Linked DNA regions of Homo sapiens: regions 1, 2, 3, 4 and 6 are each linked to region 5. The links come from fine-mapping of genetic effects on gene expression. A gene starts in region 5. Each other region holds a variant in brackets. All regions are shown on one strand. Distances are between the middles of the regions.

The links. PIP is the estimated chance that this variant, and not a neighbour inherited with it, causes the effect.
Region 1: its variant is the best candidate, but not a certain one, in a credible set for the expression of NRG1 in whole blood (INTERVAL, PIP 0.58).
Region 2: its variant is the best candidate, but not a certain one, in a credible set for the expression of NRG1 in whole blood (INTERVAL, PIP 0.68).
Region 3: its variant is the best candidate, but not a certain one, in a credible set for the expression of NRG1 in whole blood (INTERVAL, PIP 0.66).
Region 4: its variant is the best candidate, but not a certain one, in a credible set for the expression of NRG1 in monocytes (Fairfax 2014, PIP 0.62).
Region 6: its variant is the best candidate, but not a certain one, in a credible set for the expression of NRG1 in whole blood (INTERVAL, PIP 0.51).

Annotation. Positions count from the first base shown.
Region 1 is chr8:32,447,176-32,451,266 of GRCh38, reverse strand. It overlaps a transcript of NRG1 not described here. Among named protein-coding and RNA genes, the nearest start is that of NRG1-IT3, 8.5 kb to the right of the region's middle. The variant TA/A (reference allele first, on the strand shown) is at 1,853.
Region 2 is chr8:32,609,233-32,613,323 of GRCh38, reverse strand. All of the region lies in intron 3 of NRG1 (neuregulin 1), which reads right to left. Among named protein-coding and RNA genes, the nearest start is that of NRG1, 63 kb to the right of the region's middle. The variant T/C (reference allele first, on the strand shown) is at 1,891.
Region 3 is chr8:32,482,375-32,486,465 of GRCh38, reverse strand. It overlaps a transcript of NRG1 not described here. Among named protein-coding and RNA genes, the nearest start is that of NRG1-IT3, 44 kb to the right of the region's middle. The variant A/G (reference allele first, on the strand shown) is at 1,652.
Region 4 is chr8:32,399,771-32,403,861 of GRCh38, reverse strand. It overlaps a transcript of NRG1 not described here. Among named protein-coding and RNA genes, the nearest start is that of NRG1-IT3, 39 kb to the left of the region's middle. The variant G/A (reference allele first, on the strand shown) is at 2,042.
Region 5 is chr8:32,546,139-32,550,229 of GRCh38, reverse strand. NRG1 (neuregulin 1) reads right to left here and starts at 1,919. Exons shown (of 12, transcript NM_013964.5): 1 at 1,404-1,919. The coding sequence starts at 1,503.
Region 6 is chr8:32,508,586-32,512,676 of GRCh38, reverse strand. It overlaps a transcript of NRG1 not described here. Among named protein-coding and RNA genes, the nearest start is that of NRG1, 38 kb to the left of the region's middle. The variant ATTATTT/T (reference allele first, on the strand shown) is at 2,574.

The sequences.
Region 1 (4,091 bases), 99 kb after region 5:
TCATGTTATCAAGCAATCAGATGGCTCTGATGGTGAGATTGAAAGAGAGAGTTAGAAAAGAGATTTCTGCTGCAAAGTCAAACAGAAATTCAAATGTCCACTCCCATATTATTTCCCACAATGTTCCACTTTTGGGAAGTTTGAGAAAAATTATAATTATTATCAATATATAAAATAGTACTAAGAGATACCATAGTTTGAAAGGCCAAAGATCTGTATATCTGCAATTCCTTCCTGTTTGTTTTGTTTTGTTTTGTTTTTCAGTCCTCCATTTGTGTTAAAAGGTAGTTGAGGGCAACTCCCTTAGAGAAGACTTTCCAAATTTTCCTTCAAATGGTTCTGGGAAGCTTCCTCTCTCCTTCTCTTGCCAACTGACTTGTCTTTAACTCAGAACACACAGGCCTGAGATAAGTGAACAAAAAAGCACTGCAACCATCTCACCCTTGCCACCATCTCTTTCCTGGCTCATAGCTTAAAACAAAGGTTTAAGAGACTCTTCTATGCTCTTCATTGAATTCTGTCTTCATTTTTTTATTATTAAATAATTTCTAGACCAGGTGCAGTGGTTCACGTCTATAATCTCAGCGCTTTGGAAGGTGGAAGCAGGAGGATCATTTGAGCCTAGGAGTTCAAGACCAGCCTGGGCAACATGGTGAAACTCCATCTCTACAAAAAATACAAAAAATAGCCAGGTGTGGTGACATGTACCTGTAGTCCAAGCTATTTGGGAGGCTGAGGTGGGAGGATTGTTTGAGCCTGGGGGTTAAGGCTGCAGTAAGCTGTAATTGCGTGACTGTACTCCAGCCTGGGTGGCAGAGCGAGACCCTGTCTCAATTTTTTTTTTCTTTTTTAGAAATGAGGTCTCACTGTGTCACCCAGGCAGGAGTGCAGTGGCTATTCACAGACACAACCATTGTGAACTACAGCCTGGAACTCTTGGCCTCAAGTAATGGTCTCACCTCAGCCTCCCAAGTAGCTGGAACTATAGGTGCTGCTACTTCACCTGGATTTTATTTAATTCTTTATCAACCTGCACTCACAGGGTTGTGGTGTAAATTAAAGGAGATGAAATATGTAAAATAATCTAGCATAATGTCCACTTAAAGTGCTCAATAAAATTATTCTATTCCTGCTTAGTCCCCTGAAGGCCTGAAGATTCTATCTTCGCTCTATCATATTTACCTGCCCACCGGGTTGCCAGGTTTCCTATAGATATTATCATATCTAAAATTCAATCACAGTTCAGTTACTTTGGCTCCGATGATCTCTTCTCTTGCCAGCCTGTTCCCATCCCGGAACTTTATGTGCCAGCCATTTTGAAATGCCTGCCAATCCCCAAATATCCTGTGCTCTGCCATAAATCTTCACGATTGCATAGGTTGTATCTGATGCACTGGCTCCCTCTTCCCTTTCATGAATGGCATGTTTCTTCTCATACTTTAAGATTTAGCTGAATATATGCATGGTGTGTAGGAAGTTAATAGATGAATTTTTAAAAAATAAACACCAAAAAAGATTTAGCTGAAACATCCTTACTTTTTAATACCAGTATATCCAAATATGTATTGCCACAGTATATTTCCACTCTGCTTTCATGTTTCTTCTGTTAGACTGTGAATTTTAGCACATAGCTTATTCATCTTTGATGGTGCCTAGTGCATTGCCTGGCATATAACAGGTACTCAATGAATGAATGAATGAATGAATTTTCCTATGCTTAGGTCCAACAAAGTACATTGTAAATGATTATATTGTTTTTAAATCTCAAAGAAGTCTTACACCTGAAATAAATGGAGCAACAGCAATTTTGGAGTTAAGTTTTTTTGTTGTTGTTTTTGTTCTTTTTTTTTTT[TA/A]GGCTGGAGAGACAACCACAGTCCCACTAGGCTTGATGTACTTCAGTTCTATCAACAACTGATTTCACTTAGGATAATTTTATTTATTTGTTTATTTATATATTATTATTATTATTTGAGACAAGGTCTTGCTCTGTTGCCCAGGCTAGAGTATGGTGGTGCACTCACATCTCATTGCAGCCCTAAACTCCTAGGCTCAAGTGATCCTCCCATCTCAGCCTCCTGAGTATCTGGGACTGCAGGCATGCACCACCATGCCCAGCTAATTGTTGTACTTTTTTTGTAGAGATGGGGTTTCACCATGTTGCCCAGACTGGTCTCAAACTCCTGGGCTCAAGCAATTTTCCCACCTCAGCCTCTCAAATCGTTGGGATTAGAGGCGTGAGCCATCATGCCCGGCCGATGGCTTTGGACAATTTTAAACACCGCTTTCCTCCATACTCTTTTTTCAACTTGTTATTCAGAGACTCACCTCCCAATCCTCCTCACATCCTTCCTAAACACACACACACACATACACTTCAGAGGATTTTCTCAAGATAATTCAACATGATGATGACCTTTAAGAAGAAGCCAGAATAGAGTAAACAATGAGCACTTTGAAGAAACATTTTGTTGTCAGCTTATATTTGGGCTGAGGGCAGTGGCAGGGGGGACCCCTGGGGGCGTCAGGAGGTGCCGAGGAACCTCTACCATAAAAGCTACAATCCACCTCCCTCCCATTGTTTACACAGAAAAAAAAATAGCTAATTGACGTAGGATGTGGGTGAGCTTGGTTTTCATCTCAATCCTGTTTTGCCTCATCTTGCGGTTACCTTAGGAGCACTTCAGGGCCAACCATTTCCAGTGCTTTAGGGGCTAAAAAGAAATAAAAGAAAACAACTCAAAGACTTTGGATCCTCCTCCCAGACTCGGGCCAGCTAAAAGAGTAATTCCAATCCCCAGGAGCTATGATTAAGTAAAAATTATGAAAACGTCAAATTCAAGATCTTGAGAGATTACACTAATTTAAGCCCTCGATATTTTATTCCTATTGATAAAATAACCTGGTTAGAAATCCTCCTGGCACCAGAATCTCTAGCAAATAGCATTAAACATTAGTCATTGGCAAAAGAAGTCTTGAAGAGGGAATTTTCAAGTCCTTTTGGTGGTTTATGCTGTTTTCTGTCCATGTGGGTATATCTACATCAGTTGGTAATAAAAATAAACACATTTACTTAGGTTAGATTTAGGTGATATTAAAAGTAACAATGATTTAACAATTGCTTCTATGGTGTTGCATATAATATTTTGTTCATGTTAAAATTTAGTGGAGACTCAAACTGAAGTGAACATATATAACTAAGCTAGCTTAGGAAAGCCAGAGTAATATACTCAGATGAAATACCTAAACTTTAAAATAATGTTCTACTAAAGTTAATGATTACCTATAAAAATTTCAACCCCTAAGATTAACACTTTGGAAAAAATTATCATAAGGAGTTATAGTAAGAAAGTCATCCTTCCTTTTACCATGCAATCCGTTATAGAAAAACTGTTGCTTTACGTATTTTTTTTTTTTTTTTGACACAGGGTTTGGCTTTGTTGCCCAGGCCAGGGTGCAGCCTTGACCTCCCTGGTTCAAGTGATCCTCCCACCTCAGCCCTCCATGTAGCTGGAACTACAGGGAGCCACCGCCATGCTCGACTAATTTTAAAAAATATTTTTTGTAGAGATGGGGTCTCACTATGTTGCCTATGCTGGTCTCAAACTCTTGGGCTGAAGCGATCCTCTCTCCTCAACTTCCCAAAGTGCTGGGATTAGAGGTGGGAGCCACTGCGCCCACGTTTTATTCAGTTTCCTTTAAGCAACAATTAAACATTGCTGACTAAGAGAATATAATAGAATAAAACATGTCTCTTGCTATTCTAGTATGCTGATGTCTCAAGATTATCAATTTCCTCTGTATGCAAATACATATGATGTAAATGTTTCCCACAGTGATTAGCTTCATTGTTATTTTGCAGAAGTGTTTCAGATGGACTTGCTATACCACCATTTCCATTGGAAAACCAAGAGAAGGATGAGACAATCTTATTAAAAGTATTTTAGGGCCAAGCAAGGTGGCTTATGCCTATAATCCCAGCACTTTGGGAGGCCGATGCAGGTGGATCACGAGGTCAGGAGTTCAAGACCAGCCTGGCCAACATAGTGAAACCCCGTCTCTACTAAAAATACAAAAAAAAAATTAGCCGGGTG
Region 2 (4,091 bases), 63 kb before region 5:
ATGTTTAAGAACAAGTGATTAGCAATAAACCTTTAGTAAGACCAAATGTGTCTTTCTGCTGCAAATTAAGTGTGGATGATCCTCTCTAATCACAGATTAGGAGGGCAAACTATGCAAGGAGTAAGCTTGGTTTCAATACATCAAAGTTGCCTACGTTGGCTCTTACATCCACTAAAAATGGGGCTCACTGAAAGGAATTAGTATGTGAGGGTACATCATTTTCTCAGGATTTTCTCAAGCATCAGGCGAGAAAGAGGATATTCCGAATTGGTAATATGAAGATATCTGTTTCTGAAGCAGCACCAACAAGCTTTCTTGATTTGGGCTGCAGAAAATGAAATTGTTCTTCTTTGAGAAAATGTAATCTCAAAGAAACTATATTAGAGATACAAAGTGTGTGTCCTTCTCTAGAAATATCTAGAAGGGCCATGTTTCCAAACAAAGGACCTACACTAAGAGAGATGCTTCCTTCTCTTGTCCTTCAGGATTCATCAATGACATTACAACCAGATGAAGTCGTAAACCCAAGGTGCTCAACTAGAGCTGGGCAGAAGTCCCAATCCCAATTCGGATATCAAGACTCTTTTCAAATTTATTTTTGACAAACAAAGTAGCTGTCCACTGTGACCTTCCAAGAAGAAAAAAAAATCAGAACTTTTCTATCTCCAGCAAAAAATACCTCAGATTAGAGGGAAGGTTAACCATAATGTTTCATTTTTTAATTGAATGTTACCTAAAAATACCAGAACAGGAGGTTACTACAAAGAGGCATCTACACAGAGACAACTTAAAATAACTCCTCTTCCTAAAATCAGGTATTTATCTTGGAGACCTTAAAATATCTTTAATGATTATGGTTTCAAATACAAACTTTCTGAATTAACCCTGGAGGAAATACAAGCTCAAAAGTTAACCTATACTTCTACACCAAAGGAGTCTTCATTGTAAAAAGAATCTTGCTAGTAAGAAAGTTAATCTTTTTAATTAAAACCACTCAGCAAGCATTTTTATGTGTGCTATGGGTAGAATTTATAGATTTGGAAAACAGCCTTTTGTTAAAAGTAAATTGAAAGTAATTTTATATTACACTTACAGACTTTTAAAAAAGCATTAAATCCTGCAATCTTTATGATGTTTATTTAAGCAACATATTTTCCCATAGTAATTTGGCATATTACATTTGTTAATTTATAAAGGACAGCCCCTTCATTAGTGCAAATTAATGAGGTTTTAGAATTATCAGAAACTGAACACAGCTGAGCAACTTATGCTGAACAGGCAAGTAAACATAATGAACATTAGTATATTTGTAATGTTTGAATTCTTTCTTAATAAACGGGGTCTGGTCTCAGGAAAAAGTTGCATGGTCTCAAAGATATCTTCTAGAAAGGAATTTTTCTAATTATTATGAATGTAACATGTTTGCAATTTCATCATGATCATAATACACTAAATATAATTATGTAGCAAAATACACATATGCACATTGTATACAGTATATACAAACATACATAAAATGTGTCTGTGTGTATTCCAACATTCACTTATGTGACTTTTTTACCAAACTTATATGTCACTGCTGTACATACAAAAATTTTGATCAAGTGATTTCTTTAAAAGATTTAAAAGTGGACATATTTATTTATTAGCAGTTATAAAGATAACTTAAGGAACATCTTTAAGTACCTGAATTCTTCCTGTTCATAATGAATGCTTACTCTAAGGCAACTGAGAAATTTTGAAATTAATAAACAGTGTAGACAGGATGGATACCATACATTGAAAAGACAAATCTACCCTATTGCTTTCATATTGTTCTCATGTATTTGCCTTCCTGGGCATCCTACATAATACAATATACATGTAGACTGTTATACAAATTATAAAACA[T/C]ATTTTACATGCTTTTCAACATAACTGCAGGTTGTTTCCCAATATTGTGAAATTTCTAACATCATTATCAATTTGGGAAAGGGGGTAAGGCGAAGCCTATTACCAGTATGAGTCTATTTTTAAAAGCTGCAATTGATAATTTAATTAAATTTTATAAAAATAATATTTTTCTGCTCATCTCAAATGAAACAGCTATTTTTTTGCTACAAGCCCAATTGCTCCTGTGGGAACTTGAATCTCATTCAAATAATTTTTCTTCTGATTAAAAAAGAAAACTTAGGAGAAGATATGATTGATTAGTTGTATATTTTCCTATATTAATCTTTTAAAAGAAAGCATTACTTAATTAATTTGGAAACCAGTAAAGTCTATTATTCTCTTCCCTACTCTAAAGCCCAGGAGTTTTCACAAAGCTTGTTAGCTAAGAATTAATTGCTAAGTCAAGGTTTCCTATATACAGACTGAGCCAAATAAACCACAAATACAAATGAACATATAGTGTGTAGGGTGTGTAAACATGATGTATGTGGCCTTTTCTGCTGTCATATACGAATTCATGAAAGGAATTCACTCATAAGTTATCACATAATTACTGCCTATGAGATCCTTTGTTATATGAAAACCCAACTGGTCTTTGTAAGCTTTACATTGTCCCAGAAGTAATTAGCAGATTGCATAGGTTGATATATGTCTACTACAGGATAAATTACTTTCTCTAATTCTGAATAAAGTAGGGGTTGAAAGGCATTGGAAAAGACAGAAAACACCTACATTTCTAAAATGTAGGTTGGCAAAATGCTTGACTGTATTATTTTCTAAGTGCTTGAAAACAGTATAAGTATGGCCACTGTTACACCCAAGCATATACTGTTTCAAGGGGAATTTCCTAATTTTTTAATCATTTCGTTTATATTTAGTCACTAATCCAGATAGATCTAAACAATGAGTTTCATTGCAGAAGACTTTTATGATCTAATTTTATTTTAATAATTACTATAGCTTCCTTAATGAGATTAAACATCATGCCAAACAGCAAGGTCATCTGGGGAGAAAGTAAACAGCTTCCAACGAATGTCTCCCCCAACCTCCCCATCTCTCTTAGAATCTTGTATCAAAATATGTTCTAAACATGTTGGAACATACAAAAAGTAACTGTGTGAGAATTTAAGTGAATCACAAGGAATCCTCTGCATAGGAAAAAATTAGGATAATTAGATTGCAGCAACCTACAAGGATCATTCATCAAGGAAACCTGTATAGAAATTCTCGAAACTATAGCCATGAGCTTCTTGGAAATACATAGAAAAGGTGAAAAAATGAAATTAATAAAGTGACTGATAGTTCATAGAAAATATAAATTAAAATCTCAAGGGGAGTTCTACATAATGTAATAGTTTGACAGCATGTTCTTATTTTAACAACTTTTTTTTTTTCTAGAATCCACAATGAAACAATAAATTCTTGACCGGGTGTGATGGTTCACACCTGTAATCCAAGCACTTTGGGAGCCCAAAGTGGGCAGATCATTTGAGGTCAGGAGTTAGAGACCAGCATGGCCAACATGGCGAAACCTTGTCTACAAGAAATACAAAAATTAGCTGGGGTGTGGTGGGGGGTGTCTAGAATCCCAGCTACTCAAGAGGCTGAGGCAGGAGAATTGCTTGAATCCAGGAGGAGAATTGCTTGAATCCAGTGCAGTGGCCGAGATCCTGCCACTGCACTCCAGCCTAGGTGACACAGCGAAACACCATTTAAAAAAAAAAAAAAAAAAGGAAAGAGAGAGAGAGACAGACAGAGGGAGGGAGGGAGGGAAAGGAAGGAAGGAAGGAAGGAAGGAAGGAAGGAAGGAAGGAAGGAAGGAAGGAAGGAAGGAAGGAAGGAGGGAGGGAAGGAAATTCTTGAGAATTCTACTCTCTATCAGCCCAAGTCAACGGTAAATATCTATTTAGGAAGACATGGTTCAGTGGTGCGGCAATTTATAAACCCAGTAGAAAGTGCCCTTTTTCTCTCAGAAAAAGTGTTTCTGTGCAACGTCTGCCCTGATTCCTAGGGAGACAGGAATGAGACAATACAAAGGCAGTGCATCTAAGCCCCGGAGAGCTCAGAACCCAACTGAGGCTTCTTTGACAACCAAGCATTGAACAGAATATAGCAAATTCTTAGATAGCAGTGGAAGAGGATAAGGGATCAAGATGATTACA
Region 3 (4,091 bases), 64 kb after region 5:
TTATCAAAGGCTTCTCCAGATTAATATTCCTGTGTCCTAACAACCTGGGTGGCGTAAGTAGAGTTTCATTGCATTTATGGATTCTTAAAGGGCAGCTTTCCCCTTTGTGCTATGAGGGACACTTATAGTACAGGAGGTGCCTGGAATTTGTTAGCTATCTGAATAAGAACTCCCACTACTGTTTTGTGTTAGTTATAACAAACTATAAAAGGATTATTCAGTAAGAAATTCTGAGGCTGGGTGCGGTGGCTCACATCTGTAATCCCAGCACTTTGGGAGGCCGAAGTGGGCAGATCCCTTGAGGTCAGGAGTTTGAGACCAGCCTGGCCAACACGGCAAAACCCTGTCTACTAAAAATATAAAAAATTAGCCAGGCATGGGGAGGGGGGGAGCGCCTGTAATCCCAGCTACTTGGGAGGCTGAGGCAGGAGAATTGCTTAAACCCAGGAGGCGGAGGTTGCAGTGAGCTGAGATCACTCCATTGCACTCCAACCTGGGCAATAAGAGTGAAACTCTGTCTCAAAGAAAAAAGAAAAAAAAGAAAGAAATAAGTGCAAATTGGGGAAATATAATTTGCAAGGCTCATTTATTCAAGGATAACTTTAGGGGTTTGAGTGGGAAAGATATAATTGGTATGATCACCTAAATAAGACGTATTATGAGATTTGAAAGAAAAGATTACAACTTTAAGGGGAAACTTAATTAGATAGAAATGCCACAGAAGCAGCAACTTCTCTCAGGAGTTTAAAATGCAATATTCTGACAATTGTTTACTTGTTTGGTTAATACGTGTGTTCTCAATGAAACAGGGAAACAAACTAGTAGTTAATTTCATTTTCCTTTCTTCTTCCTTTCTCCCACCTACTTCCTTCCTTCCTTCTTGAGTGTCTGCTTTGCAGCTACCATTAGGGATATGAAATAAAAAAGACAGGGACTCTGCCTTTGAGGAGTTCGTGGGGTGGAGAAAGAGGACAGACAGATATGTAAACAATTAAGGAAAGATAGAAGCTTATTATTAATATGAGAGAGGAAGCAGAAAAGTGAAGAAAGGAGGGAGAGCAGACCGGGTGTGTGGCTCACGCCAGTAATCCCAGCACTTTGGGAGGCCGAGGAGGGAGGATCACCAGAGGTCAGGAGTTGGAGACCAGCCTGACCAACATGGAGAAACCCCATCTCTACTGAAAAGACAAAATTAGCTGGGCGTGGTACTATAATCCCAGCTCCTTGGGAGGCTGAGGCAGGAGTATCGCTTGAACCCAAGAGGCAGAGGTTGCGGTGAGCCAAGATTGCGCCATTACACTCCAGCCTAGGCAACAAGAGTGAAAATCTGTCTCAAAAAAAAAGAAAAAGAAAGGAGGGAGAGCAGACACTATACTGAGCACTGCAGAGGAAGTAACAGGTAGAGAAGCCAAGAAGGATTTCAATTTCAATTTCAATTTCAAGAAGTTTAGTATTTCTGAAACCCTTTGGAATCCTTCTTTGCACAAGAATTCTCTGAATGGGAGGTTGCGTGGTGTATGTTCACTACGCCTGATCTTCTTTGTGATTAATATTTAAGTGGAAGGATAGATGATGGTATGAAGATATTTCCAGGCTCTTTTTACAGGCTAAAATTTTAATTCATATAAATTTTAAGCATCATTATTCTCTA[A/G]ACATGAAATGTTTCCATTAAAACATAAAACCCAGTGGTAATACTTCATGATTTTAATAGGTCACAAATAAATGTGTTAACTTCTGTAAAAAGAAACAGAAATAGGCAAACCAAAAAGCCCCTTTTCTAAGCTGAGAACGTATTTATTGGCCTAGCAGAAAAAAGACAAAAGTGAGTTCCTATCTAAGTCTACAGTAGGAGAAAGAAAAAAAAAAGGCATAGGTATATTGTACAAATGACTCCAGATAGATTCTATGCCTGCTGGACAGCATCGTTTGTATTTCACAAAATCACCTTGACTTCAAAATGCTTCAAACTGAACTCATTGTGTTTTCATCAAAGCCCATGTCAACTTCTCTATTTTCTGAATGTTATCACATTTCATCAGTGATCTGCTCTTGAAATCTCTGTCAAAGTTGACTCCCTTCTCTCATGTTTTGTGCACATCAGCCAGTCCTTAAATCACACTAATTCAAAATGTATCTTGTCATTGTCTATTTCTTTTTCTGCCCACTGACAGCATAAAGGTGGATGTTCAGTAGTTTGTACCTGGGCATTTTAGTAGCCTACCAGTTTCTTCATTCCTTTCCCTCTTATTTCCACTGTATTCTCCTTAGTACACTGGTTTTGTTCTATTTCCTGCCTAAACCAAACCTCAAATGACTTTCCCTGAAACTCTAGGTTTTGCCCAAACTTTCTTTTTTTTTTTTTTGATACGGAGTCTTGCTCTGTCGCCCAGGCTGGAGTGCAGTGGTGCGATCTTGGCTCACTGCAAGCTCCGCCTCCTGGGTTCATGCCATTCTTCTGCCTCAGCCTCCCTAGTAGCTGGGACTGCAGGCGCCTGACACCACGCCTGGCTAATTTTTGTATTTTTAGTAGAGACGGGTTTTCACCATGTTAGCCAGGATGGTCTCGATCTCCTGAGCTTGTGATCTGCCCGCCTCGGCCCCCCAAAGTGCTGGGATTACAGGCGTGAGCCACCGCACCTGGCCACTTCTGCCCAAACTTTCTAACGTCGGTGGACATTGGAGGCAGTGATGGAAACTGTGAAAGGGGTAAAGTTGTTTCTGGGGGTCCCTGCCCACCCACATCCCCTCTTCTCAGTAGTGTAAGGAAATTGACATGACAGCTCACCTATGCTCAAGTGGGGAACACAAAGAAGACTTACCTAGCCTCCGACATTGCCTTCAAGATCATTATAAGGTTGGAGATGGAGAGAAGGAAATTCTAGCAAAGGCTTATCAAGTGACAAATGGACTTATCACATGTAAGCAACTGTGGCATATGTTGAGCACAAGAAGTTGAAGTAGTCACTTTGCTCTAAGTCCAGACTAATGAACAAGAGGCAACTAAATGCATAACTTTCATGGGGGGAGAAGGAAAAGCCGGAGATGGAGTAGAGGTCAAATGATTTGACATCTTCCTAACACTACAATTCTTTTGGTTTATTCTGTGAATGCCTCTTCAGAGACAAGGCAAGTGGGTAATTACAGGGAATGGAAATGTTTGTCACAACTCAGAGAATAGACTAGAACCCCCAAGGAAGAGAAGTCCTCTCTAGCCAGGCTGTGCTTTGGATTTAGCCAGAGAAGTGGCAGAGAAGTGGAGATGAGGATTAAGATTATGAACTATAAGAACTAGAAAATCTGGAAGAAATGTTCTCTTTCCCATCTCCCCAATCAACACACACACACATATTCATGTCAGTTATGGGTTCCCTTGGATCATGCCAATGTAGTGTCATCCTGACATGAATTGAGTGTGTAACATACACAAGACAGGAACTGTGGGAAGACACCTGGCAACCTAAGCCTCATGCTGTCTAACGCCCTGTCCCCAGAGATCAAAGCCTTGTCTCAAATGAGTCATTTGGCACTTTGGTATAAATAAGTTTTAAAGCTGGGGTTGTTCCCTAACATCAACCTGGTGTAAGAACTGCTGGTTGACGGCTGGGAGTGCCTCTGGACCTTCAGTTCAGCCCATCTGTCTGCATGTTATTCCACTACCCTGTTCCCACCCTCTTCCCCCACAGCTCCAGTCCTTCTGATTCAACACTCGAAAGAGTCTGGGGACCTTGAGTCCATCTGCCTGTTCCCTCTCTCTGCTCCATGCATTTCCTCTTGTCAGCACCCGTCCCCTGTTCCTCCTGTATGGAAGAAGGACTGGGCTTATCCCACAGAGCACCCCATAGTCCTTGGAATGGCTCCTTCCTAATCACAGCAGAGCAATGAAGGGAGTGAGGTTGGACAGCTTCAGGGAAGCAGGGATACTGAGATCCCAGCCTGGATCTGCCCGGAAAAGCATGGCAGATTTGATCTCAGGCATTACCAGTGATGTGCAAAGAATGGATGGAGAAACTGATATGGATGTTATTTACAGATACCAGAGAACACACACACACACACACACACACACAAAAGTAGAAAGAAAGAAAACAACC
Region 4 (4,091 bases), 150 kb after region 5:
ATTTTTGTACTTTTAAAACTTTGTACCATGGGAAGACAAAACAAATTTCAAAAATATCAAGATCTCTCCTCATTATGATCCAAAAATGTACCTTCCTTCTTTCCTCAATGAACTCTCACTCTCTAGGATGTCGATCTGATTAAAATAATTGCCACTTAAGTGTAAATTTTCCATAAAAACAGAGGTGATGTGGGTGGGTACTATCTATATCTCAAAAAATGTGAAATTTTTGAAACATGAGCGTATAAAGGAGACTTTCGAGCAGGGAGGGATTCAGATACTCTATTTAGAGAAGGCTTTCCTTGTCAGGTTCAAACAGACTTGGATTTGAATAAGCTCTTTTATCTTATAAAAGTGAAAATCTATAAGACTGTGCAACTAGAAGCAAATTTCTTAAGCTTTTTGAGAGTCAATTTTTGTATCTTGTAAAATGGGGATAAGAACTACTTCATGGGATTGTAGTGAGGAAGAAATAACAGGAAGGCTATCAAGTGCCTTGCACACAGTAGGTGTTCAGTGCTTGCTCATTTCTTTTTTCTTTCTTTTTTTTTTTTTTTTTTTTGAGACAGAGTGTCGCTCTGTCGCCCAGGCTGGAGTGCAGTGGCATGATCTCGGCTCACTGCAACTTTTCTGCCTTCCAGGTTCAAGCAATTCTCTGCCTCAGCTTCCCAAGTAGCTGCGATTACAGGCACCTGCCACTGTGCCTGGCTAATTTTTATATTTTTAGTAGAGACGGCGTTTCACCATCTTGCCCAGGCTGGTCTTGAACTCCTGACCTTGGGTGATCCACCCGTCTTGGCCTCCCAAAGTGCTGGGATTACAGGTGTGAGCCACTGTGCCCGGCCAGTGCTTGCTCATTTCTTTCTTGGCTTCTGTGTTTTTATTTTCCTCAACAAGGCTGAGGAAAAATAATGTAAGTGATGTAAGGATACGAAAATACATAGAGTAATCCCCCCTTATCCTCAGGGGATACATTCCATGACACCCAGTGGATGCCTGAAACCGTGGGTAGTACGAAACCCTTTATATACTATGCACAAATATCTTTTTTCTTCTTCACAGTTCAACAGATAGAAGATCTAACAACTTCAGCATTCAATGTTTTTCTTTCCTTATTAAGAGTTTTCACTCAAAGGAAGCACTTTAGGGCTTCTCTTTGGCAGCTCCAAATCTCCAGCATTGCTACTCCTGTGCTTTGAGGCCATTAGGAAGTAAAATAAGGGTGACTTCAACACAAGCACCCCCATACTGCCATGGTCGATCTAATAACTGAGAGGGCTACTGAGTGACTAACAGGTCGGAGGCATAGACAGTGAGGAACTGCTGGACAAAGGGGAAGAATTCATGTCCCGCATGGGACAGAGTGGGACAGGGCAAGATTTCATCACGCTACTCAGAATGGCATGCAATTTAACACTTATGAATTGTTTTTTTTTTAAATTTTCCATTTAATATTTTTAGACTGTGGATAAATGAAACCAAAGAAATCAAAGCCACGAATCAGAGGGGGCCCACTGCACCTATTTCCTTTCATTTTATTGAATGGCTTTGTAAGAAGTTCAAGGCTGATGAGAGTGACAGGGTGTGTTAGATAGACAATGAGCTACAAAGGGTAAGGAAAGTGTTTTCTCTTTTTAAAAAAACTTTTAGGCCAGGCGTGGTGGCTCACAACTGTAATCCCAGCACTTCGGGAGGCCGAGGTGGGCAGATCACCTCAGGTTAGGAGTTTGAGACAAGCCTGGCCAACATGGCAAAACCCCATCTGTACTAAAAAATACAAAAATTAGCCTGGCGTTGTGGTAGGCGCCTGTTGTCCCAGGTACTCGGGTGACTGAGGCAGGGAGAATTGCTTGAACCAAGGAGGCAGAGGTTGCAGTGAACCAAGATCGCGCCACTGCACTCCAGCCTGGGCAACAAGAACAAGACTCTGTCTCAAAACAAACAAACAAACAAAAAAACCAAACAAACAACTTTTATTTTAGGTTCAGGGGTACATATGCAGGTTTGTTATACAGGTACCCTTGTGTCACAGGCATTTGAC[G/A]TACAGATTATTTTGTAACCCAGGTATGAAGCATAGTACCTGATAGGTAGTTTTTCTGATCTTCTCCCTCCTCCCACCTTCTGCCCTCAGCAGACCCCAGTGTCTGTTGTTCTTCTCTTTGTGTCCATGTGTTTTCTTTGTTTAGCTCCCACTGATAAGTGAGGGCATGTGGTATTTTGTTTTCTGTTCCTGTGTTCATTTGCTAAGGATAATGGCCTCCAGCTCCATCCATGTTTCTTCAAAGGACATGAACTCCCTTTTAGCTAAATTCAGCCTATTTCATCGAATGACTATAGAATGCAAAGCCTTTTTTTAAGTGTTAGGGACATAGCAGTGGACAGAACATGAAAATCCTTGCCCTCATGAACCTCTAGTGAAGGGAGACAGACAATGAATAAAATAGATAAATGATAAGTGCCAGAGAGAAAACTAAGGAACAGGGAATGGGGTACTGCCAGAAAGCAGGGCACGTTTGCAGTTTTATTTTTTATTTTTAAATTTTTATGTATTTATTTTTTAACTTGTATTTTAGGTTCAGGGGTACATGTGCTGGTTTGTTATATTGGTAAGCTGCGTGTCATGGGGCTTTGGTGTACAGGTTATTTCATCGCCCAGGTAATAAGCATAGTACCCTATAGGTATATTTTCTGATCTTCTCCCTCCTCCCACCCTCCACCCTCAAGTAGGCCCCAGTGTCTGTCGTTCCCCTCCATGTATCCATAGGTTCTCATTGTTTAGTTCCCACTTATGAGTGAGAATATGCAGTATTTACTCTTCTGTTCCTGTGTTAGTCCGCTTAGGATAATGGCCTCCAGCTCCATCCATGTTCCTGCAAAGGACATGATCCCATTCATTTTTATGGCTGCATAGTATTCCATGGTGTATATGTACCACATTTTCTTTATTCAATCTACTGTTGATGGGCATTTAGGCTGATTCCATATCTTTGCTATTGCGGACAGTGCTATCTATGATGAACATATGTGTACAGGTGTCTTCATGATAGAACAATTTGTATTCCTTTGTGTACATACCCAGTAATGGGATTGCTGGATTGGATGATAATTCTATTTTAAGTTCTTTGAGGAATCGCCATGCTGCTTTCCAGAACGGCTGAACTGATTTACAGTCCCACCAGCAGTGTATGAGCGTTCCCTTTACTCTGTCAGCATCTGTTATTTTTTGACCTTTTAATAATAACCATTCTGACTGGCGTGAAATGGTATCTCATTGTGGATTTGATTTGCATCTCTCTGATGATCAGTGATATTGGGTAATTTTCCATATGCTTATTGGCCATGTGTATATCTTCTCTTGAAAAGTGTCTGTTCGTGTCGTTTGCCCAGTTTGTAATGGGTTTGTTTGTTGCTTGTGAATCTGTTTAAGTGCCTTATAGATTCTGGATATTAGGTCTTTTAAGTTTTAAATTAAGTGATCAGCCTCCCAAGTAGCTCAGACTATAGGGTTGCACCACCACACCTGGCTAATTTTTGTATTTTTGGTAGAGACAGAGTTTGCCACGTTGGCCAGGCTGGTCTCAAACTCCTGACCTCAAGTGATTCACCCACATTGGCCTCCCAAAGTGCTGGGATTACAGGAGATGTTTAGTTTAATAAACTATGCTTTCTACATAGATATTTGAAGCGATACTACAGATTTTAGGCTCGGGTTAATGTAGGATTCTGACTATCCAGCATTTCCTTATTAACGCAATGGCAGCCTAAGTATTTATGTTCCTAAGTAAGAAAATATCCAAGAAACTGGTATTGGTACCTCAAAACAATTTATGGACTGCACTGCTATAAAGACCCTCATGGGTGTGAAGAGGTGCAGAGAGGTGATATGGGGAGAAGGCAAGGAAGCTTCCTGCAAAACAAAGTCTGCAAGGTACTTAAACTTACATGTACTTGAAGAATGAACAGCTTTTCTCTTTCCAAACCTATTACTTTCAAATGCAGAAGACATGGAAAATTTAACACTTCTGGAAATCATAAAAAAGAACACTGGCTTATACCCTATAATACCTGATATTTGATAATAAAAAGAATTA
Region 5 (4,091 bases):
AGGGGCAATGATCAGTAATTGAAGTGAATATGATCAGCAGGATCTTATTAAAGAAGCAAGCACAAGAATGGCCAGTGGTGAAACAATTACTCTCTGTTCAATTTCTGTTTTGCTCAAAACTCTGCTGAAGGTCTCTGCCAATAACCCAGGTTCTGAAATGCTATCAGTGATACCAGTAAGAAGACCAAGCAAATGTGGTTTGTTTTCTTCCAGCAAGGGACAAATACTTCTACAGTATTACTGTAGCCACAGTATTATCAAGTACTAGTGAATTAATTCTGCAGAAGTGCTTCATGAAATGTGTGTTGGGGGTACGCTCGAAGCGACTTAAGGCATCTGGATCAATTAATAATTGGGAATTGCAGAGGCAAAAAATAAATTCTCCCCCATCTCCTTCCTCCCCTCTTTTATCAGCTACCTACCAATCACTCATAAACAAGTATTTATTCGACATGCCTCTTTTGTCCAAGGTAATGTCCAAAGCATCAGCGCTTCCTAGGGACATCTAAGGTAAAGCTTTTGTTCATGCTCGTGTTCTGATGATGAAATACAAGATTTGTTTCTAGAAAGCTTCAATTGCCATTTTATTATATAGATAACCAGCAAACAATTGGGTTCAAAAATTCAGATAAACGGTTGTTTTCTTACATCTCTTGGGAAAGTAAATTATCCATATTTATCACAGAGGTCTTGAAAAATAGAACTGTTAAGCCAAAAGTTTGTAGAACTTGTTTGGGGCAGAGCTGATTCCTGACACTGGACTAGATTTCATCTGCTTCGCTGACCTTTAGGAATCCCTGCCGCTGCTCTTGAGTCTCCGTAGCACAGGACTGAATCAAGATGAACCGGCGCGCACTCTACATCGCTTGCCCTGTGCCCCAAAACGCCGAAGCTAACTTCCCACGCGGCCTCTTGCTCGACCACCCACTTCTGCGCTGCCAGGCACACCGAGGGGACCGGCTCTCCCTCCAGGCGGCCCATTCCAGCGTTTCCCGCTAGAGGGCACACGGCCCCCGTGCAAAGCGCTTATGGCGCGGGGCACGCGCGCACGCAGCCTCGACTCCTATAGCCCAGGTCCCACTCCCGGGCTGGGCTCAGCCGCTAAGGCGCTGGGGAGGGGCCGTGCCAGGGAGCGAAGCGCTCCCGGGACTCTGGGAGGGTGCGGCCGGGACTGCTGTCCCTTGCCCTGAGCTCTGGGCGTAGGCGCCCGGTAGGACTCGGCGCCCAGGTGAGCGGCGGCCCCCAGGAGGGGAAGCACCGCGCGACTCAACGGGCGCTCAGAGCGCAGGGCGAAGAGGACGGGCGAGGGAGAGGGGGAGGGAGAGGCCACGGCATCCGAGGAGGAGGAGGAGTAGGAGGAGCAGGAGGAGGATCGTGGGGCCCGGGCCGCGCTGCGCACCCACCTGGGCTCTGGCTGCCCGCCGCGGACTCCGGCTTCTTGCCGGAGCCTCGCTCCTTCTTCTTGCCCTTCCCTTTGCCTCTGCCTTCTTTGCGCTCGGACATCTCGCCGGAGACGGAGCGCTCTACGCGGACGGCTCTCGGCGCAGGCGAGTTTGGTCCAAGGGCTCGGATCGGGTTTGGGAAAAGTTTGTCCCTCGAGGGGGAGAGCGAGCGGCCGCGCTGAGGCGCTCGCGCTGCGCGGGGGCGTCTCCCGTTGCCTGCAGGGAGCGCGGCGCGGACGCGGCGGGCGGTCCGGCCACCTGGAACGGGCGCTCGCCCTGGCTCTCGGGGCTGCTCCTGTCGCCCCGGGAAGTCGTCGATGGGTCCCACCGCTGGCGGCTCGCGTCCTGGCCTCTGCCCGGCGCCCTCGCAACCCGATCGGGGAGAGGTTATCACCGTCCTGCTCACGCTCCCATCGTCCGGCAGCCGCCGCCGCTCAGCTCCTGGCCTCCGCGCGAGCCCGGAGTTCCAACAAGTTTCGGGGAACTCCTCGCCGGCTCTTTTTCAATTGCCCCGCAGCCACCCACCTCCCGCCCGCAGGTTGGAGGCAGGCGCCTCCTTCGCACCCTCCCCTGGCCTCGCCCCCTCCCTCTTCCCCACCACACCCCCACCCCGAGGCGCGGACACGCCACCGGGAGGAGCCTGGGCTCGGCGCTCCCGGGCGCAGCCCCTTTTCCTCCCGCGCTGGCCGGGCGGGGGGTGGCGGCGCGGCTGCCGGGAACCCCCGACAGGGGTCGCTGGACGCTGCGCGGAGACCGAGGCCAGCGCCCCGGAGACCCGGGAACCCAGGCGGAGACCCGAGGCTCTCGCTGCCCGCTCCCCTCCGCAGCCAGGCAGCGCCTGGGAGGGCTGCTCCGTCCCATTCCACGCGGAAAAGGACGGCGCAGAGAAAAGTTTGCGACTCCCACACCTGTGCCCCAAGCAGAGTCTCCGTGGTCAGGAACCCTGGGAGGGGTGCGGGGGGAACGTTGGTGGCTTTCCCAGAAGAGTTCGGGGTTCATTCCTTAACTCACTTAAGTACAAAAGCCCTGTCGCACGCAGGCGAAAATAAACTCTAGGTGGAAGGGAGTTTAAGATAAGGCTTCCTTCCAGGTGCACAGGAAGGGCTAAGCGAACCTTAAAGATGCTAGGTTGCGCTCTCCTGCTGGGTCTGCGCCGTGTGCGTGTGTGTGTGTGTGTGTGTGTGTGTGTGTGTGTGTTTAGTAAGTGCCTGTTAGAAATCTTCAGCTTTTCCTTAAAAAATAACCTGGCCTCTTCTAAGGGGGTGCCCTTAAACTACGTCTCTTACTACAACTTAATTTTCAGAGGAACTGATAAAAAACATAGTTCGGAGCACGACTCAGAATAATTAAAATTACTGCAGCCGCTGAAAGTCACTCAGTTCTGCCGAGTGGAAAAGCAGGCAGGGAGGGGTAGAATAAAGACACAGAACTGGAGATCCTTAATTCGTGAATGTGGGGTTTCTCAGATTCAAACTTTACTCAGAACTGCGCGTGAAACCTACTCCTTCCCTTGTCCTCCCTCTGGTGGAGAATTCTAAAGAGCAAGGAAATAAGAAGGCATTGACCCCTCCCCTGCAAAGGACAAAAGTTAAAGACCAGGGTAACGGGCACCACGGAAGGATCCAGAATTGTCTACATGTAGAGAAAACATTCTCAGAGTTATACCACAGCTGTGGTTAACTTAGACTCTTAATTTACAGTGAAATACTCTTGTGTTGTGGTCGGGAAGTGGTGAGTTGGAACAATCCATATTCAAAATCTATTGCTTCACTTTAAAAGTGACTTGCTCTTGGTTTTCCATTTTCTGGGGTCAATGCTAACTGAACCATTACCTACACACTACCTTCTCACGGTATTTTCTGATGGCCGCAATTTAAATAAAAGTGCAGTCTGGAGTGTCTCCTTGATATGTAGATGGGAAGGGAGGGAGGGAAATATGTTCACTTTAAAACTGTCCTAAAATCACACTAATTTTATTCTAGTTTAATTTGCACTGTCATAAGAACGAAACTCTGTTGAATGGGTTTAACTGTGGAAAGATATCCTAGCAGTCTTGCCATCATTATTTATAGTTTAAAAGTTTGATGTCCAAGTAGCTTCTGATAGCCTTCCTACAAACACCAAATATAAATTTCACTGGGCTATAAAGACAGCAAAAGCAGAGAAAAGATGATGAATATATCTCAGTAGCACTATTAATATTCCACAGAGACGTATGCAAGATGGAGTCTGAACACTGGCTGAAATAACTCTGTTTTCCCAGGAGGGGGCCACTGCTCAGTAAGCAGGAAATAGCAAAATTCAGAGAAGTCCTTTCAAAACAGATATTTTGTCCCAAGGATGTGAGACAGCATAAGGGCTTAGTATACACTACCACATATTCTCTAACATGGCATTATGTTAGAATTGAAGGACTGAAAGCAAAGATGTATTCTGGGATTCTTTTTTAAAAAATAAGATTTTCCCCAATTAAAAAAAAGAAGCTCAAAATCCATTTCTATGGAAATGTTGTAATTCTGCTACTTTTGTTTAGGGTCTGGATGTTTTGCTTCAACAAAACAGCTTACTGGTCATTTTTAGAGTAATTTTTCAGTGAGATAGGGGAAGAGCCTACGATTTTGTGATACATTTTCATTTGAATGAACCTGA
Region 6 (4,091 bases), 38 kb after region 5:
TCTTCCACTAACTAGCTGTGTGGACTTGAACAAGTTACCTATTTTTTCTGTGCCTCATTCATGTCATCAATAAAAGGCACTAGGAAAAGATACTTACCATATAAGGTTGTTATGTAGGGTAAATGAGATAATGGCACTTAGAAGAATGTCTGGTATATAATAATTGCTCAATCAATGCTAGCTATGATTATCAGATCCTCTTGGAATGCTAACAAAGGTATAAGTAGTAATAACAGTGAACAGCTGTTGAAGGAAATTCATGTGATCATAAAGCTATGATTTCAGTTTGCATTTTACCATTCTGTTATCCCAATGTCAAATTTAGTTTAGTAAGTTATGATTAATATTGCCAAATGGCTAAATTATATAGCTGATGTCAAAGCCTTTTGAAAAGTAGGCATAATTGTTGAAGTAATTCAAATAATTTTTATTCTACATGTATATTGTCCAAATATGTACGTCTGTATTAGTATCTAAGCAGAAATGTCTTTCTGTGAAAATTCCAATTCCTCTAGAAGCTTCCCCCCTCCATCCCCCTCATCCCCCATAAAGGACCATCTTCTGTCCTACCTCTTTCTTCTCCTTATTCCTGGATTATGAAGAAGGCCAGCTCAGGCCAATCCATTCCTGTGGCATGGAATGACCCATGATCACATTATAGCCTCCTACCTGGCATGTGCTGGGCAGGAAAGAGACCAGCACAATGTCCAGCACAAGAGGGAAGCTTCTGCCTTAATTCTACCCCACTGGTCCTGGCTCTGCCCATTTCATTAGCTTCCCAGTGGCCGTGCATCACAGCTCCCTGGGGCTGTATTCTCCCCATTTAGGGTCACAGCTGCATGCTCCTAACCTCATGTAACTCATCTACTTCTCACATGCTCAGAAATTTCCTTTAAAGCACATCTTTGCCTTCACAGAGTATATTTATATTAATAAAGAGTTCTTATTGTTTTTATCCATGAGCACGTATGGCTGACTCAAATACAAGCCATTGCAACTTGGTGGACAAACCCTAGTTGGTACACACTTTGAAAAAGTGCTCAAAGCCAGCCAATCTAGGAGGCATGAGATAATCTAACTACTGTCGCTTCTTTAACTTTCAGTATAAAATTCCTCTGTGTATTTGGGGCTAAGCTTAAGTGGAACACTGATCAGAAGTGTCTGTGATGGTCTGAAAAATAATGAGAAAAAGTACAATGCTTTCATGAAACTAAAGACAGACGGGGTTTTCTGTGGGGATTCAGGGCTATAAGCAGCTCTTACCTATTTATTTTATTTATATATATATATATATATATATATATATATACACATATATATCGACAGACAGACACACACACACACATATATATGTATTTGTAAATGTGTGTGTGTGTGTTGAAAAGAAACAGTGATGGCCAAGCAGGGTCATGTAAGTTTGTTTACTGATGTATTTGTTGATAAATATCTGTTGTATGTTTTTCATAATTGTTTGAACATGTATGTCTGGTTGCTCCATGAATTGGAACAGTTCCCATTTCATCTGGTCCAGGAGGTAAAATAGATCAGTCCACTATTAAAATACTTTAAAAACATACCCTCATTTTCTCAAAGCCCCTAATCTATAAGCATGGTGAGAAAATTAGCCTTTGTCTCTTTGGGATCCTCTCCCCAGAGATTTTTTTCAGGGTATGGCATGGAAAAAAATAGGGAGACCCTGCTTCAGAAAAAAAAAAAAAAAAGGAAAGAAAGAAAGAAAGGAAGATTCCAACAGAATACAGAAAAAAGGAAAAAGAACAATGTTTATAAGAACCTGGAGAGAGAAGTTGAGAAGACGAAGACCTGTTTTTTACTTTTTTGGGTAGCACTGCTAAGGGTATGGCCCAGGGTATGGCCTGGACTAGAGAGGGTGGAGCCATCTTCCGGATTACTGAAAAGAGTCCTGTCTCAGCCTGCATGGTCCTTAGGGTGCGGTGGCCCTGAGGCTTCTGGGTGCCTGGCTGAGCCCTTTGTTTTAGTTATCAGTGACATCATCAGCCCAACATGAGCACAGCCATGTCTTCTCCAGAATCACTCATCCTGCACTTCCCCATTTCCTCACCTTCTACTCCTCCAAAGAACAGGCAGGAATAGAGGTGATGTTCCATTTTATTAGAGTCCTGCGACTTCTGGGTACTTTTTTATTTCTTTAGCAGTGCTGCCCAAAAAAGTAGAAAACAGGTCTTCATCTTCTCACCTTCTCTCTGCAGGTACTTGTAAATATTGTTCTTTTTCCTTTTTTCTTTATTCTACTGGAATTTTCTTCCTTTCCTCCTTTTTTTATTTTTTATTTTTTTGAAACAGGGTCTCCCTATGTTACCTATGCTAGAGTGCAGCAGCACAAACATGGCTCACTGCAGCCTTGACCTCCTGTGCTCAAGCAGTCCTTCTGCCTCAGCCTCTCAAAGTGCTGGGATTATAGACACGAGGCAATATGCCTAGCCCTCCTTTCTTTCCTTTCCTGTCTTTTCTTTCTTTTTTCTTTCTGTCTCTCTTTCTTTCCCTTTCTCCCTCCCTCCCTTGCTTTTATGATTATTATTATTATTATTATTATT[ATTATTT/T]TTGTCTAGGATAGCTATGTTCTTTCTCCTGTTTCTGACCAAGACATTTTTTCCACTAGTTAAGAATCTTCTCTCTTTTGGAGCTAAATTTTAGGGGGAAAACAAGCAAAAAAAATTCCAAAAACTAGATTTTCACAGGCAAGGCCACATTTCTTCCCTGTAGCAATAATTGTAGGGTCTGAATGAAAGGAGAGTAAAAGGATAAAGACAGATGAAATGTTAACTTCTAAACATATTAGCTCCCACCACCACCACCTCCAGTACACACACATCAACAGGCTAGGACATCCAAAATATTAATGAATTACTGAGAAGGTGGAAAGTGGAGAGGTTCAAGCCAAACATATAGCTGCCTTTTCAGGACCCTCAGACTTAAATCCAAAATGAAACTAACAAAGTCATCCTCCTCAATGAAGCCCTCCTCTGCTGTCTCTTTTCTCTATTTCTATTAATGGAATAAACAAACAACCAATTTACCAAGCTAGAAATGTGAGTGTCACCTTTGACTCTTCCCCCTCTCCTTTAATCACCTGCATCCCTCAAATTCCAATTCCTCTTCAATCTACTTTGGCAATGGCATCCAAAACCTTCCCTCCTCAGGCTGCCGACACTAGCTTAATCCAGGCTCTAATCATCTTTGTTTTAAAGTCTTAAGTATTTTTTTTAAGATTACAAAGTTATATGTGAATAATAGAAACAATTCAGGCCGGATGTGGTGACTCACACCTGTAATCCCAGCACTTTGGGAGGCCCAGGTGGGAGGTTCATTTGAGCCTGGGAATTTGAGACCAGCCTGGGCAACATGGTGAAACCTCATCTCTATGAAAAAATACAAAAATTAGCTGGGTGTGATGGTGGTCACCTGTAGTCCCAGCTACCTAGGAGGCTGATCACCTGAGCACAGGAGCTTGAGGCTGCAGTGAGTCATGATTGCACCACTGTACTCCAGCCTGGGTGACAGAGCCAGACCCTGTCGCAAAAAATAAAATAAAATAAAATATAAAATAAAATAAAATAAAATAGGAAAAGAAAAAAGAAACAATTCAAAGTATACACAAGTATAGGCCAGGCACGGTGGCTCATACCTGTGATCCCAGCACTTTGGGAGGCTGAAGTGGGTAAATCGTTTGAGGTCAGGAGTTCGAGACTAGCGTTGCCAACATGGTGAGACTCCATCTCTACTAAGAATATAAAAATTATTTGGGCATGGTGGTGTGTGCCTATAGTCCAGCTACTCAGGAAGCTGAGGCCTGAGAATTGCTTGAACCTGGGAGGTAGAGGTTGCAGTGACCCAAGATTGCCCCACTGCACTCCAGCCTGAGTGACGGAGTGAGACTCTGTCTCACACAAACAAACAAACAAAAAACCAAAACAACAACAAAACCACAAAGTATATACAAGTATAAAAAATAAATAGTGTAGGTTTCCTAATAATTCTACATATCAGAATGACAACTGTTAAAACTTTGTTTTTGTTTTGCAACTTAAAAAATAGCCCTTAGGCCAGGCGCG